2 separate regions of the Homo sapiens genome follow, and region 1 is linked to region 2. The links come from fine-mapping of genetic effects on gene expression. Tissue or cell type: stomach. Region 2 holds a variant in brackets; the other region holds the start of a gene. All regions are shown on one strand. Distances are between the middles of the regions.

Region 1 (8,106 bases), 530 kb after region 2:
CCAGCCTGATCAATATGGTGAAACCCCGTCTCTACTAAAATACAAAATTTAGCCCAGCATGGTGGTGTGCAACTGTAGTCCCAGCTAATTGGGAGGCTGAGACAGGAGAATTGCTTGAACCTGGGAGGCGGAGGTTGCAGTGAGCCGGGATTGAACCACTGCACTCCAGCCAGGGCGACAGAGCGAGACACTGTCCCATAAATAAATAAATAAATAAAGGGGCCAGGCACAGTGGCTCATACCTGTAATCCCAGCACTTTGGGGAGGCCAAGGTGAGTGGATCACCTGAGGTCAGGAGTTTGAAACCAGCCTGGCTAATGTGTTGAACCTGCATCTCTACTAAAAATACCAAAAAAAAAAAAAAAAAAAAAAAATTAGCCAGGCATGGTGGCAGGTGCCTGTAGTCCTAACTACTCGGGAGGCTGAGGCAGGAGAATCCCTTGAACATGGGAGGTGGAGGTTACAGTGAGACTCCATCTCAAAAAAAAAAAAAAAAAAAAAAAAGAAAAGAAGATTAGTTGATGTGAGCACAGCTTAAGAAAATGCTTGAAAGCAGGTGACTAGACTTATGTATGACTAACTTCCTTTTAAGAAAACCAAGGGTCTCAGCAAGTACAGTAGTTCCCAGAGTTTTTGATTTCAGAGATAAACAACATCAAAATAATTGGTAACTGACTTTAGTAACCTCCTTTTGTTATTTTTTGAAAAAGGATACTTAAAAAACACTACAATTTATTGTTACCATTGTTTTGGTTTTTTTTTTTCATCAGAAAAAAAAATAGTGAAGGCACAGCCTCACAATTATATATAATTTTTGAAATTAAATACATTCAGGTTCATGAAAAACTCAGGACATTGTCCTATTTTTTTTTCCTCATTTTATCAGGGTCATTTTTTCATCAACTAGCTGATTCACATAGAAAAATCCTGAAACACATATTATTTATCTTCAGAGAAATTCATGTTGATGTTACTAGTTGCATCAAATATCTCAGCCAGACAACATTATTTGTTGAATCTTCCAGGCAGCGGATTTTTTTAAAAGGGCCTGATTCCTGCCCTTAATAGCAAAAGGGTGCTGTTTTCAGAATAAGTAAACAGGGTATTAAACAAAAGAGAGATGTCCATCTTCTTGAAGAAATAGTGAAGAAGCAAGACAGCAAGGGGAAATGGCTTGTCGAGTTTCTTTAATATTTAGAAATAATCAAGATCATTTTCAAGGGTCAAGTACTCTCTCCCATTTTAAGAAAAACTCCTTCATTCAGGGAAATCATTTGAAACTTTAAAGATGTATCAACAAGTACCCCATAAATTTATACAAATAAAAAAGGACATATCAACAGGTGGCAAACCTGTTAAACACATGGTCTATTATGCAATACTTAATTGATTACTAATATTAATTGTGCACTCATTATATACAAAGTACTCCCCTCGATTCTGAGGCATGGGGAGAGAGTTGCAAAGATGAATAGGTCCCTATTTCATGGAATTTACAGTTTAGTAATCTGTAGATGGGTAAACAAACCACAATGAGTAGGTCAATCTAACAGAGGGACTGATCATTTGTTAAAAAGCAAATCGTGGGCTCATATGCAATCCATTATTTTCTTTAAAGAAGAATTAGTGGTCTTTTAAAAAAATATGTATGCTTCCTATGATGCATCACAACGACTCTTAGTCTGAACTAAATTTGCAGTCAGCCAGAAGATGTCCCAAATCATGTCCTGACTGCTGATCACACAGACTACCACCTGGTTTCAGCTGAAGATTCTTTTAATTGGATTTTTTTCTGTGTTTCTGTTTTTCACTGGATTTTGTTTTTCTCTGTTCCTCTCCCTGGAGGAAAGTGGAAATTTGGTTACTTTTTTGTGATGGAAGTATACTTTCATTTATTATTATTGTCGTTATTATTATGAATTTTGAAGCCGGACTTTTAAAAGCCTGGAAGGCTGCGGCGAATGGCATGTGAGAGGGGAGGTTTGCGGGAGGATACCAGCAGGTGGCGCGTGTCTCCTCCGGGCAGATTAGAATGCTTTGCTCAGGGCCAAGAATCCCGCAGGAATTAAGGGCAACTATCTGTGCAGTCAATTCAAGTGACACAGATCATGCCATACTTAAGTGCCGAGTCCATGAAGTCACCAGTTCCAGCCTGTTGTCTAGGCCATCAAACTTATGTATTACCACTTAAAAAACCAGCTCCCCTACTCCAAGGGTTGCATTACTTTCGTGCTTGACACCCCGACAACCCCGCACCCACCCCCCGACTCATTTTCCCCAAGCCAAGTCGCTCATAGGGGACAATCAAGCCTTAAGAATAGAGCAAAAATAAAGGCCCTGGAAAGTTGGACATGAAGCTTTAACTTCAGGAAAGGAATGGTATTCTATTAATCGTCCAGCTGGTCTGCCCTTAGGGTGTCAGATGTTCTCTGTCGCCCCTGGTGTGCCAGCATTGGCCTGGGTGCCACTGGGTGGCTGATGGCAGAATGTGAATTCACTTGCAAGCGGACATGTTCGTTTCCATGCCCCAAAGCGGGAAGAAGAAGGGCACAAGGAGACTTCGATGGTTCTTTCAGCTCAGACTCGAGCTGTGACTGATTTGCTGTTTGGGGTCACTGGCTTTCTAGCCTCTCCTGGCACCACCCAATTTCGGGGAGCAGCCAGCTCATCTTTCTCCTACGACAATGTCTTCTGTCCCCCATAAACACTGCCCTCATTTTGAGTTTTTCTTTCCTATGTCTGTAGCTTTCTTCTGCCGCTCAGCAAACACTCTGTCCCACTCGTATTCGTCCCTTGGCGCTGGCGTCTGGCCCAGGGGTACACTGTGAAGGAGGGCAACCCTAGATTCTGAGGGCCCTAGCTCGAATCTAGCGCCCCTCTAACTGCAGGGGTGACCTTAGATACATTTATTAACTTCCTCTGTAGACTCAGGGGAACAACTTTGGCACTCCTGGGGTCCCTGGATTAATGAGGTAACTTACGTAGACTCCCTAAACAAGCGTCTGGTTCATTGTAAGCGCCCAAATGCCAGGGGGCATCTGCAGGGATGACCCCATAGTGAATGAAAACTGCCTCTTGGGGATCTCTGGGTTAAACGGCCAGAATAAATCGCAGAATTGAGAGAACCCTCTCCTGCCCCAAACCTCACTGTACTGTAAATCCCATTCATTGCCTCCCGCCGTTTTATCCGTGTTCTCAGACCACCCCCCTATCCCCGCAACCTCCAGTCCCCTAAAGCCTCCTGGGCGGCAAAAGGACGCCCAGAGAGAGGTTCGGCGCCTCAGTTGCCCCGGAGCAGACGTCCAGCCCCGCCGTGTACCCGATTGCGGGGCGGATCGCGGCAAGGCGGCGGCGGCCGGCAGAATAGGCGCGGAGGAAGGCTCAGGCGGGGCAGACTGCGTGGGGGAAGGAGGAGGAGAGAGCAGACGGCGGAGGAGGGCAGAGCAGCCGGGGGGAGGGCGCAGGGGCGGGAGGAGACACATGCGCGCTGCCGCCGCCGCCGCCGCCGCCGCAGTCCTTAGCTTCCCGGGGACAGGAAACCTTCAAGACCGAGCTGCCACGGCCGCCTCCCCGCCCGCCCCCCATTCTACGCGCCTGCCCACACCCTCCTCCCCTCCTTCCAGCGCCTTTCGGTGGAGCACTGCGGCACTCAGCCCGAGCTGCCGTTTTCCCCTCGCGGGGAACGCTGTGACCCCCCCGCAGGAGCGGCGGGGCGGGGTGGGGGGGCCCGGGAGAAGATGGCGACGCCGGGAAGCGAACCCCAACCTTTCGTCCCGGCCCTTTCGGTAGCTACTCTGCACCCACTTCATCATCCCCACCACCACCACCACCACCATCAGCACCACGGAGGAACCGGCGCCCCCGGCGGGGCGGGTGGTGGCGGCGGTGGCAGCGGGGGCTTCAACCTGCCCTTGAACCGGGGTCTGGAGCGCGCGCTTGAGGAGGCGGCCAACTCCGGGGGGCTGAACCTGAGCGCCAGGAAATTGAAGGAATTTCCCCGTACCGCAGCCCCCGGGCACGACCTCTCGGACACGGTGCAGGCAGGTGAGTGAGGGCCGAGGGGCGGGCAGGGGTGTGGGTGCTGTCTGGGTGTCTGTCGTGCGTTCCCTAACGCGGTGGACAGTCGGAGATCTTGTCTTGCTGGGGGAGGGAGGGTCCATCGGCCCGTTGTCTCCCGAAGAAGGGACTCGCGTGGGCGCGGAAGAAGCGGGCCCTGGAGAGGGCACGGGGGCCCTGCCTGGTCCGGCGATGCAGTGCCAGGAGGGCAGGGGTGCGCCGGGCCTCTGCGCCTGAGAGCGAGGGGTCTCCGGCTCTCCACCCTGTGGCTGCCGCGCCAGGGAAGTAACCGCGGGGCTGGGACTTGCAGGCGCGCCGCGTGCGCGCAGTGTAAGTGGGAGGTTTCAGGCGGCTGTGTCGGCTTCCTGGGCCCCGCGCAGGGCTGGGAACTCCAGCGCGGACAGCGGCGTCGGCGCCTCCAACCAGTTCAAGCCGTCTTTGCATCGAGGCGTAGCCCATCCTGGTGGGGAAACCCAGACAAAGGTGGCACGCCCTCGGCCGAGCCAGGGGCATCGGCGCAGTGCCGCGAGCCCCCTCGGCGACATCGCCGAGCGATCGGGCAACTCGGTGCCGCCTGTGAGGTGCCCAAGTTTCCTCTCCCTGCGCTTGTGCGGGAAAAGAGCCGCCGGGCTTGTAGTGAATCCCAGTCGGCTGCCGCTTCGGAAGCGATCGGCCCTCTTCCTTCCGTGCCTTTTGCTCACCGCCCACACAGTTTGGGTCCTACCACCGAGGCTACCTGGTTCTCAGTTACCCAACCGTTGCGGGGGCCCCAGGAAAGGACGGCGTGGCATATTAAAGGCAAAGTAATTAACGTGAGCCTGTTTTCCTGTGTGAGCCCGGCAAGTTGTAACTCGCGCCAATAAGCAGCATAACTTTTTCAAGTTACGTCATGTGTTACATACTTCTAAAACGTCTGCTTTCTCTTTGGTAGTTGGAGTTCCAGGAGCGGGATCTATAAACAGGAAGGAGGGTGGTGGAATAGGATTGGGGCCTTAGGGTCTATACAGAACTGACTTGGTTTCCGGCCATCCGGTTCCGCTCCCTGGGGGAGGGTTTGTGTCATAGCAAGCGCCCAACATTTCCCAGGGCAGTGGGTGCTCCGTTTTGGAGCCGCTGCCCAGACCTCTTGGCTGTCATCGCCTCATGGCCCAGGGTCAGACCCCCTGGGTCTTGGATGGGTTGACTCTCATCACAGGAGCACCCAGTTTAATCTTGTAGTGGGCAAGGGAGCAGGCAGTGGGTTTTTGGAGGCTAGGTTTCCAGTGTCTTTTCCCCCTTTTAATTCAATAAACATTTATCTAGAGCCTTAATGAATATTTAGATACAGTTCTGAGTTCACTGGAGGCAAAGATGGCTCTCCAGGGTCATTAAACTTTGTAATTTGGATTTAGGGATAGTCAGGAATCGGCAAAAAAGAGGGAATTTCCAAAGTTGAGCTGTCAACAGCTGGGGAGTGTCTTTCAATAAGACCTCTTAGTTACATCTTCTCAAGTGGAACTTATTCCAAGAATTGCCTGAATCACTGACTTAAAAAACTACATTAAATTTTACTTCCCTTCTGCTATAGAGTGTACCGTGAGCTAGCTATGCTATGGTTGGCTATATCTGCAGAAAATAGAGCTGGCATGACTAATAATAATAGGTTTGTGTAGTTCAGTAAGGGGGCTTCATAGTTGTTCTACTTCAGTTATGCTAAGGATTATTTACAAAGTTAGGTGAACTTGATGTGTCTGCTGTGTTGGCATTTCTTTGAGAAGACCAGTGCTTTTAGGGATCACATCTTTTAGCTAAGACCTCGCCATGTGAAGTGGATGCTGAAAGTGTTCTTGTTGGCTTGTTTATGGCAAGCTTAAGTTGTGAGTTTTGCAGGTTTTTATTTATGAGCTCACTTGCACATGTTTTATGCTCAGGAAAATCTAACTGGTTAAAATTCAGAGGCTTTATGTTAATTCCTCATCCAAAAATACAGTATTATTTGGGGGAAGAGGAGTGGAGGGATATTCATGTTTGTAGAAACTTAAGTCAACCCCATCAGAAAAGTATTCATTGCAGCTAGTTATTTTACATGAAATTAGAATACCCAAATGTATTAAATATTTGCTTCTGCAAAACGTCTTTGCCTCAGGTCAAAAGCTAGGTGTAAACCACATGTACTCTTTGTTCTAAAGATAAATTTAATTGAGCACAGTTTCTTATTTGAGAGACCAGAAAGCAAAATAAAGAGTTAAAGTTACCTCCGGTGTACACAGTGTTGACACAGCGTACATGTAAGAGTTCTAGTACAGTTGAAAGTTTGAGTAGTAACATTTATAATAAAGATAGTGGTTTCTCCTTGACTCATATTTACTTTAAGAATGTCTCTTAAAATTAGAATGGCATATGAAGATCCTTAAAGGCCTAAGAGGCAAAGTGGATTTTTTTTTCCATATATTTTCTAAGACAGGGAGTGGTAGAGCAAGCTTTTTCTCACAGTTTTGTTGTATATTACAGGCCATTTGGTTTACGCCTTGTAAAAAGTCAGGCTTCTGGCAGCCACCTGTGCAGAACTGCACCTGGGCAATATAGCCCATCTGAACAGAGTGGAAAACCAAGATGTAAACAAAGAAACATAGAATAGATGTCTAAGCTGTCACTCAAGTGCATATACTTTATTGATAGGAAAAAATTCAAGCTCTCATTTTGAGCCTATTAATTTACTTCTATTTGAATCAAAATAAGTTTTGTTGTCAGAGTCTAGTCTTTTAATAGGTGAAACGGGGAAAGAAAGACTGATCCACGCAGGTGCAGTGAGTGACACAGGTGTCACTGATGGAAAGGGACAAAACAGAAGAGCCACTATCAGCACTGGGTGCGCCTCTCTATGCGTTATCTGCATGATCTTAGTCCCCACTAGGAGCCCAGTCATACCCTCATTTATACATGGGAAGACTGAGACAGAGACAAGTTACATAATATGCTGAAGATTATACCTCTACTGAGATGGTCAACCGGTGATTGGAACCCTGGCAGCCTCACGTTAATTCATGTTCTTGACCATATTCTCATCAAGCAGAGGGAAGGGGTTGAGAGATAGAATCTGGGAGGCTTCCTGGAAATTCATTCAACCAGCATTGATTCCACAAGAATGTACTGAGCCCCTCTGAGTGCTGGCCACTGATCTAGGCACTGGGGACACAACAGTGACCAAAAGAGAATCCCTGTATCCCTTCTTGTGGAGTTCATTCTAGTTGGAGAATAGAGAGATACATGAATAAATTGATTTTGCAGGATAAATAGGATGAGTTACAGGATAGATGGAATATCTTTGTTTTATAAATACACAGATTGCTTTGTATTGACTTCAGGTGGCTTGTAGCAAGAGTATAAATGATGACTAGTAATACATATAATCTGAAGCATAAAATTGGGCCAAAGAAAAACAAGTACACAAATTTGCATATGAGTAAAGCAAATTTTTTTTTTTTTTGGTGCTGATTTATTAAGTAGTGTCGTTTTGAATGAAGAAGTTCAAAAGGGTATTTTGTACAATTAAAAGTGAATTGAAAAGGAGTAAGAAAAGAAAGTGGCTGATTGCAGGAGGTTCTAGAAAATAAAAAAGAAGCCCTTAGACTTGGCATGCAGGACACTTGTTGAAAGTCTTGTTAAGGAAAGTGGGGAATATTTCATTGCTAATTATCTTTTTGAGTTGGCTCTAAGCAGGAAAGACTATGGGCCAGGCACTGTGGCTCACACCTGTAATCCCAGCACTTTGGGAGGCCTAGGTGGAAGGACCACTTGACCCCAGGAGTTTGAGAACGGTCTGGGCAATATAGTGAGACCCCATCTCTACGAAAAATAAAATATTAGGCCAGGCACGATAGCTCACTCCTGTAACGCCTGCACTTTGGGAGGCCAAGGTGGGTGGATCACCTGAGGTCAGGAGTTTGAGACCAGCCTGACCAACATGGTAAAACCTCATCTCTACTGAAAATACAAACATTAGCCGGGCATGGTGGCATGTGCCTGTAATCTCAGCTACTCAGGAGGCTGAGGTGGGAGAATCACTTGAAC
Region 2 (8,106 bases):
CATAGAGTTCAACTATCTTCATTTTAACGTCTGCAAAGCATTTCATTAATATGATCATACTTTATCGTAGCTTACTTAAAAGAGTTTCCTTCTTAAAGACAGATGAACTGTTTCCAGTATTTTGCTGTTAAAAACAAGACTTATATGAACATTTTGATATATACTTTGGTTCAAGTGCAAGTATTTTTCTATGACATTATTTCTCAGACTACATTGCTAGACTGAAAATAAGTATAATTTCTATTTCTAATAACACCAAACTGTACTCCAAAACTCCTTTACCAATGTAAACCCCCACTTGAAAACATTAATGTTCTTCATTTCTGCCAAACGAATGGGTGAGTAATCATATCTCTTTATTTTCATCAGTATTTCCCTGCAGTAAGATTGAGCATTTATTGGCCAGTTCTATTTCTCCTGTGAGTTACCTATCTGATACATATATATTTTTACTCATTTTTTAACTAGGCCGTCTTTTTCTTATGTATTTGTAGAAACTCATTATATGTCTATATAGTATCTTTACTAATGCTTACACGTTACACATGTCAAGTATTTTCTTTTACCATTTCATCTGTTTTTAACTTCTGCATTTAGTTACACAGAAACTCCTAGTTTTATGTAATCAAATGTTTGTGGCTTCTGGGTTTTATGCCCTATTTAAGGAGGATGTACTAACCTCCAAGATTACCAAAATATTTTCACACATTCTACTGCAATGATACTTTTACTTTTTATGTTACTTCATTGGTCCTTAAGAACACATGATGAACAAATACAAGAAGTTTAAGGAACCAAATAAAAACCACAGACTTCGGAGTGGGGCCTGGAAATACAAAGAGTAACCAGATAATCAAAAGTTTTATAGGCGTAGTTAGAATTTGTACTTGCTCCTGAAGGCAATGGGAAATTAGGGAATTTGAAACAGGAAAATAAAATGAACATTCAATTTATTCTTTTAAAAGACTGTTCTGCAACTCATAGAGTGGGAGAAAACACTAACAATATATTTATATATCTGATAAAAATCTCATATCCAGAAAACATAAAGAATTCCTCTAATTAACAAGAAAAAAAAAACAGGTAACACAATAGCAGAACGGCAGACATTTGGAACAGACACTTCACAAAATAGGGTGTACAATGGTCAGTGAACATGTGAAAAAGTTTTCAACTTCATTAGGAGAATGCAAACTAAAACCACAGTAAGATACTACTACAAAATTTTAGAACAGCTATGATGAAAAAGGCAAAAACACCGTATGGTTAACTGGAACAACCATTTTTGATCTGAAATTATCTACTAAAGAGGAACACATTCACACTCCACAGCCCAGCAATTCCACTTCGAACCATAAACTCAAGAGAAATTGATATGTGTCTGTACATGTTTACCAAAAAATATGTTTAAGAATAGTAATAGCACCTTATTATGCATAATAGCACCAAACTGGGAATTACTTGAATGTTCATCAACAGTAGACTAAATTATGGCATATTCATACAATAAAACACTATATAGCAATAAGAATGATGCAATAACAATTAATGAATGATATGTGAAATAAAGTACAATCTCAGATAATACTGTTAACAAAAGAAGCTAGGCACAAAAAGAGTACATGCTGTCAATTCCATTTATATGGAGCTCAAACACACAAAACTAATCAATGGTGCTAGAAATCAGGACAGTAGTTACCTTTGAGGGGTGAGGGTAGGGAGGAGTGACTAGAAGAAAACACAAGGGGACTATGGGAAACTAGTAATTTCCTACTTACTGATTTGAGTGGTTTTACAAATGTGTTCAGTCTGTGAACATCCAATGGGTTGGACACATGTATTGTGCATTCCTCTGAACGTATAGTATACTTCAGTAGAAAAACTTTGTAAGAAAGATTATTCTTGCTTTAAAGTGGGGGATTAATTAGGAGACAAGACTATAAGCAAGGGATGGGATTAGGAGGTTATTTTGGTAAAATCTATTTATAGGCAATAAATAAATACCTTAAGAACTAGAATATTAGTAGTATATCAAGAGAAACAGATGGTTTTCAATGGTATTGGGTACATAAAAATATCTATCTGGTAATGCCTGGGTGGAGGGAAAGAAGTGTCAGTGATGACTCTCAGGACTGTTGGTATCTGGTAGGAAAAGTGATGCCCTTAAGATACATAACTCAGATGGAGATGCCCAGTTGGTCAATGCTAAATTGAGAGCTCCAGATTTTGGAGTCACTACACGTACGACGTTAATGAAGCACTGGGTGCATGATTTCATCTAGAAGGAAAAATTGAAAGTGAGAAAAGAAGATGGCTAGGTAACAGGAAAACAACCAAGTTTTAAAAGCTGTTCTTACAGACAAGTGATTCTCAGAGAGTGGTCTGAGGATACCTAGGAGGTCCCTGAGACAATTTCAGGAGTTCTACAAAATCAGACTATTTCTATAACACTACATTGTTTGCCTGGTGTACTCATTCTCCCATGAGTAGATAGTGGAGTTTCCCAGAATATGTGATGTGGTTAACAGGTGGAATGTAGAAGCAGGTAAGAAAATCTACCTATCAACTATTAAGCCAGATATTAAAACAATTTGCAAAATGATGCAAAACACTGCCACCTCCTCACAATTATTATTTTTTGCTTTGCAAAATAGTTATTTTTCATAAAAGCATATAATGGATTTTTATATGTCATTGTTAAATGAATGAATACATAAATATTAAAAAATTTTCTCAGGTTCATAATATGGCAGTTATGGAAACATAAAATACACAAGGATAAAAGTTATTTGGGGGTTCTGAAAAAGCATATAAAAGTGGCCTAAAAACCAGAAAGTTTATAAATATACCAATTTTTTCTGAATCCAGCTAAAATTGTTATTCCAGATAGAATAACAATGCAGAAGGTAAGTCTATGAAACCAGTTTAGTCTCACTATCCAGGGAGTGGGGCACTTAACTCAATGCTTCAATATTCCCTCAACAGATACTTTCAAATCACAGAGATACACAATGGTCAAAAACTGTGCGTTTCAATCAAGGAAAAGCATAAGAAATTCTTATTAAAGACATTTACACTCACCTTTTAAAAGAATTTCCTATATAAAAGGCTCTTGAAATAAAATCACTTTAGATTTTTTAAAAGAATATAGTTAAGTGCAAATCCTTGGGAATCAACATTTAAGGGGCACACAGAATACAAGGAGCCTCCGTGTAAGACTGAAGGGCTTGAACAGGAAGATACAAAACTGAAGAGTGATAAATAGAAGCCAAAAGAAGAGTCTTTTTCAAGAAAACAGGAGCTCTTGATGTGTCAAATGCTGCAGACGGCCATTTAGGATAGTAACAAGTACATCTCCATTTATTCTGCAATGAGGAGGTCATTAGTGACTTTGAAAAGCAGTTTTAGTGGAGAGTTGGGTCAGAAGA[C/T]TGAATAATAAGTATCAGGTGAAACAGTATCAAGTAGAAACAGTAAGGCACAGAACTGTTTTAAGAATTTAGTTGTTAAGTGGGGATAAGCAGGATAGTGACTAACAGTAAAATAGGGAGGAGAGAAAATGGATGTTAAAGATATAGAAGAGAGTGTATCACAAATGAACAAGATTGCTGAGGCAGGAGGAAATCAGATCTACAATACAAGGGAATTATTCATCAACCTTATACAGCAGGAAGGAGGCCTCTTACACAGAATAAGAGGGAAGTAAAAAAGTTTAGGCACAAATAAAAACTTAGTTTGAAGGTGTGGTAGGAGGAAGTTGAGGGAATTCCTAAAGATTTCCATTGTCTCTGCTTAGTAGATAGCAAAAAAGAGAAATGAAAGCATAGATTTATGGAGAAGGTTTGACATACCTACCAGGAAGAAAAAGAACAGACTTGGGCTTTTCTGAACCTTTTATATTTTCAACAACTACTAATTATTGTAATGACAACTGAAAATATTTTAAAGATAAGAAGTATCAAATACATTTTAAAATGTTTTTTATGCAAAAAAATTAAAATGAAAAGAAAGGATGCTTGGGTGTGTTAAAAGGTAACCCCTTAGTATTTAGGAAAAGTTAGCTCTCCAAACTTGAACAGTTATGGTTTATAATATTTTATTTAAATATACTAGTCAACTAAAATGGGAGAGTATAGCTGCCTTTATTGCTATTTTGTAGAAGCGGTATTAGGTTGGATTATGAAATCCTGAGTAACCATAAACAAGTTTCCTATTTGTTCTTAGAAGCAATTTTTTAACAGCACTGTCCAAAGATGGAACAGGTTTCCTTTAAGTACTGATGTAACAATTACTGGAAAGATGTATTTACAATACTTTACAACTGTTAGTCTATTAAGTCTTCAGAGATAATTCTGAAATATAGTAGTTAATATTGTAGTCTTGTAGCTTCTCAGTTCTCTGTCATAAAGACTCGACTTGGCCACTGTAGCTCAAAAGCAGCCACAGACAATATGTAACCAAATGGATGGACATGGCTGTGTTCCAATAAAACTTTTTTTGCAAAAACCAGTGACTGGCCCACACACTCTAGTTTTCTAATCCCTGGTCTAAGTTTTCAGCTTCTCACTGAAAAAGTTGCTTAAATTTTTAAGATCTTTAGTTTTGTCATCTGTAAGTAGAGTAACAAAGCTATTGAAATAATAAGACAATTATATAAATTACATTAAATTGTCCACCCCCACTCAATGCATTTAACAAATACAAGTTCTCTTTCTCTGTGTTTGGTAATATGACATTACAGTGCCCATCTTTCAGAACATCAAAGAGGTGGAGAAAACATTCAAGGGGTGGAAAATAAATGCTTATTGATGACTCAAAAATGATTTTGCTCCCACCTCAGCTTCCCAAGTAGCTGGGATCACAGGCATGCACCACCATGTCAGGCTAATTTCTTTGTTTTTTTGTAGAGATGGGGTCTTACTTTGTTGCCCACACTGGTCTCAAACTCCTGGGCTAAAGTGGTACTCCAGCCTTAGCCTCCCAAAGTGCTGAGATAACAGGCAGGAGGACTGCTTGACTTCAAGAGGCTAAGCTGCAGTGAGCCATGATTGTACCACTGTCCTCCAGCCTGGGTGACACAGTGAGAGCATGTCTCAAGAAAAAAAATTTTTTTGCTAATTTTTTATTAATAAATCCAGGTCTCTATCTTAATCTGATTTTGATTTCTTCTGAAAGATAAAAGTCAAACATTTCTTGGAAATAACTTTCCCAAGTCCTTAAGATTTAAAAATCTCATTTATAATATTTTATGTAAAACAAATATAGATTTCATTTTAAGCTTAGCGTTAGGAATTTTTAAATTTACATATGCAATACAATCCTGAAGGGCTGTAATGCTGCACAATAAAGTTCTAGAGGGAAAACTAGGAAGGGAAAATAAAAATATGCAATGCAAACCACTTTCTCTGCCTTTGTACAGCTACTATATGCCAGTTTTTGCCTTATAATTCAGTAAGATAGAAATATGTCAATAAAATGATTCTGAAACGAGAGGGATCACAGTCGAAAGGTGTTCTGAAGCCCACGAAAACTCTAGAAAGTAAATAATCAAGAATTCGCCATTTAAACCAAGATTCTGAAACTCACCATCTCTATTAGTTTCCCATTCTACATTTTCTTCTTCACTTTCTGGAGTTCTTTCCTTAGTGATTTTTATGTCTTCCTTTTCCCTATGTCTCCCTCTTGAAGATTCTTTCTAAAAAAGTACATACATACATTCAGATTACTATATTTTTAAAAATTATGAGGTAGTTTATTGTAATAAGAGAACATTTTAATTTCATTCATCTCTGTTTCATCAAAGAATCAGTTTTGTAAATAGTCACTTATCCACTAAGTAGAGAAAGTGACAAATTCTAGTTTAGCACCACAATGAAAAGACTATACTCCATTTTACTAAAGAACAAAAACTACTAAACAACAAAAACTAAAAGAGATGTAGACTATACTACATCTATTTTACTAAAGAACAAAAACTTTAAATATTAAAGAGTAGCTAAGATGTAAAAATATACAATGCAAATCTAATACTTTAACAAACTTGTGACATTCAGCTACACAGTAAGTTTCCACGTGAAAACCACTGGGGAAAAGACAGTTTAAAATGAATAAAATACAATGGAAGGATTTGTAAGTGATTATATTTTAAAATGTCAAAAAAGGGCTAAACCATTCACCACAGACTTCTAAAAATAACTGATCTAGGACTTGTCATATATTCAAGTAATTGTCATTTTCCTAGACACCCAAGGATAAATCCAAACTCATTTAATAGTATTATAAAGGTTTACAAAAATATATTTTACCCATTTTGATGAAACCAAATGGTACCTAAAATAGTAAATTAGTCCTCACTACTGCTGCTAAAAAACAGGTTTTACATTTTATTCCAGGTATAAAAGCAGCTTACACACAAAAAAGGACAAAATTAATTCAGATTATAAAAGTCAATTAAATGTCCTATTACATAAGAACTCCAAATCATATTTTACTAGGTGGTAAGAAAATAAAAGTAACCAGTGTTATATAATTGTTATCTTCCACCACAGCAGAAGTCTTACTTTTACTAACATTGTAAATACTATGAAAGACACTTACACACAAGGATATTAAGTGCTCAAATTTCTTTCTGAGCATTACTAATCATAAAATTTGGCTGCTTAAAACACAAATTAATTTCTCTTTGTAGTTTTCTTCTTAAAGAACTCTAGTATATATAACTGCCCCTAAATTCTACATATTTAGGCATGAAGTCATACTGTAAATATTACTGACAAAATTTGGATTTGATTGCTGGTAAGACAACAGAGGCTGACGAAAATAATTTGTAAGTTATATGAGAATAAAACCTGCCATGAAAAAAATGGTGAAGAGTCAAGAAAACAGAAATGGGCCTCTACTTGAACAGAAGACAAAAGGAAGAAATATAATTTACTTTTACTCTTAAAACATATTATGTGGAACATCAATGAAGAACTATCCTACATCCCAAACAATTTTTGAATGTTCTGTGGATTAAACCCACTGTAAATATACATTACTGAATAACTATACCAAAAATATTTAATAGGAGGTTATCTCCAAATTATTAAATAACATATTCTGTGCTTTCTGTCCACTTAAAAGTATGTAAAATCCAATTGCAAGTCTAGTTAAAAAGGGTGTCAGAGCAGTAGTGCTGGTGCTGCAAAATCAATCTATAAATTTGTAACATTTTTTATCAGATTTAGAGCCAGAAATGTTGTATCAATAAATGTCATTAATAATGATGTCTGTAAATATTTCATATTTACCCTAAATATTAAAATTATAATTTTTGAATTGTCCATGTTTTCCAATATGACTCTGATGCTACTCCCAGAGATCATATATAACTTCTATTATTAGGTACTAGAGACTGAATGCAGGCTTAAATAGGTGATGGAATTTCAAGTTCTTACCTCAAATCATAATATAGGAAATTATTTTGGTAACATTTATTAAGAAGGTCTAGCTAATTTAAAAAATACCTTATTTCCTAATTTCCCCCACTTCAACAATGTGTAACTTGTTTAGGTATGTTATGCCTTTTATCAAACAAAGTTATTCCCCCTTTTCTCTTATACTCAAATAAATAGGGTATGGTATTACTCGTCCAATGTAGTGTAGCACGGTCTACTATTCCACCTTGCTGTATTTCTTGAACAGAATGGCTTCTCATCTTCTCTTAAATCCAAACATATTAATTAAAAGTATAACCTACTGATTACTATGTGTTGTAAATTAGTCATCCTGGAACATCTAAGTCTTGAAATACTTGAAGAACCACAGTATTTTAGCCAAAACCCTTGGGATCAGATATTTTAAGAGTTCAGAATTTTTTTTTTTTTTTGCATTTCAAAGCATATTAAGTAGTACTACTGTTCCAGTGGAGTCTGGAACAGTAGCCTGTGACCAAACATACTAACATTTTTGCAGCAAAACACAGAAATTCACCACTTGTATAAAAACTGTAATTAAATTTATTTCAATTAAGACCAGGTTTTGCTCCCAAATGTCTGTGTCTTAGGAAAAATGTTTGAAGTTTTTTGAATTTCAGAAATGTAATACATGATTTTAGATGTTTATATT

Which allele goes with the higher level. Positions count from the first base shown, and alleles are read on the strand shown. Sizes are in standard deviations (SD) of each study's normalised expression.
In carriers of allele C in region 2, the expression in stomach of the gene that starts at base 3,511 in region 1 tends to be higher than with T alone (large effect, 0.77 SD a copy in GTEx).

What was found. PIP is the estimated chance that this variant, and not a neighbour inherited with it, causes the effect.
Region 1: it holds the start of LRCH1, and the variant in region 2 is fine-mapped to the expression of LRCH1 in stomach (GTEx, PIP above 0.99).

Annotation. Positions count from the first base shown.
Region 1 is chr13:46,549,660-46,557,765 of GRCh38, forward strand. It overlaps LRCH1 (leucine rich repeats and calponin homology domain containing 1), which reads left to right and starts at 3,511. Exons shown (of 20, transcript NM_001164211.2): 1 at 3,511-4,044. The coding sequence starts at 3,738. RefSeq lists silencers at 3,455-3,644, 3,705-3,764 and enhancers at 3,968-4,668, 4,325-4,644.
Region 2 is chr13:46,014,866-46,022,971 of GRCh38, forward strand. It overlaps ZC3H13 (zinc finger CCCH-type containing 13), which reads right to left. Exons shown (of 19, transcript NM_001330564.2): 5 at 5,584-5,692. Among named protein-coding and RNA genes, the nearest start is that of ZC3H13, 34 kb to the right of the region's middle. The variant C/T (reference allele first, on the strand shown) is at 3,429.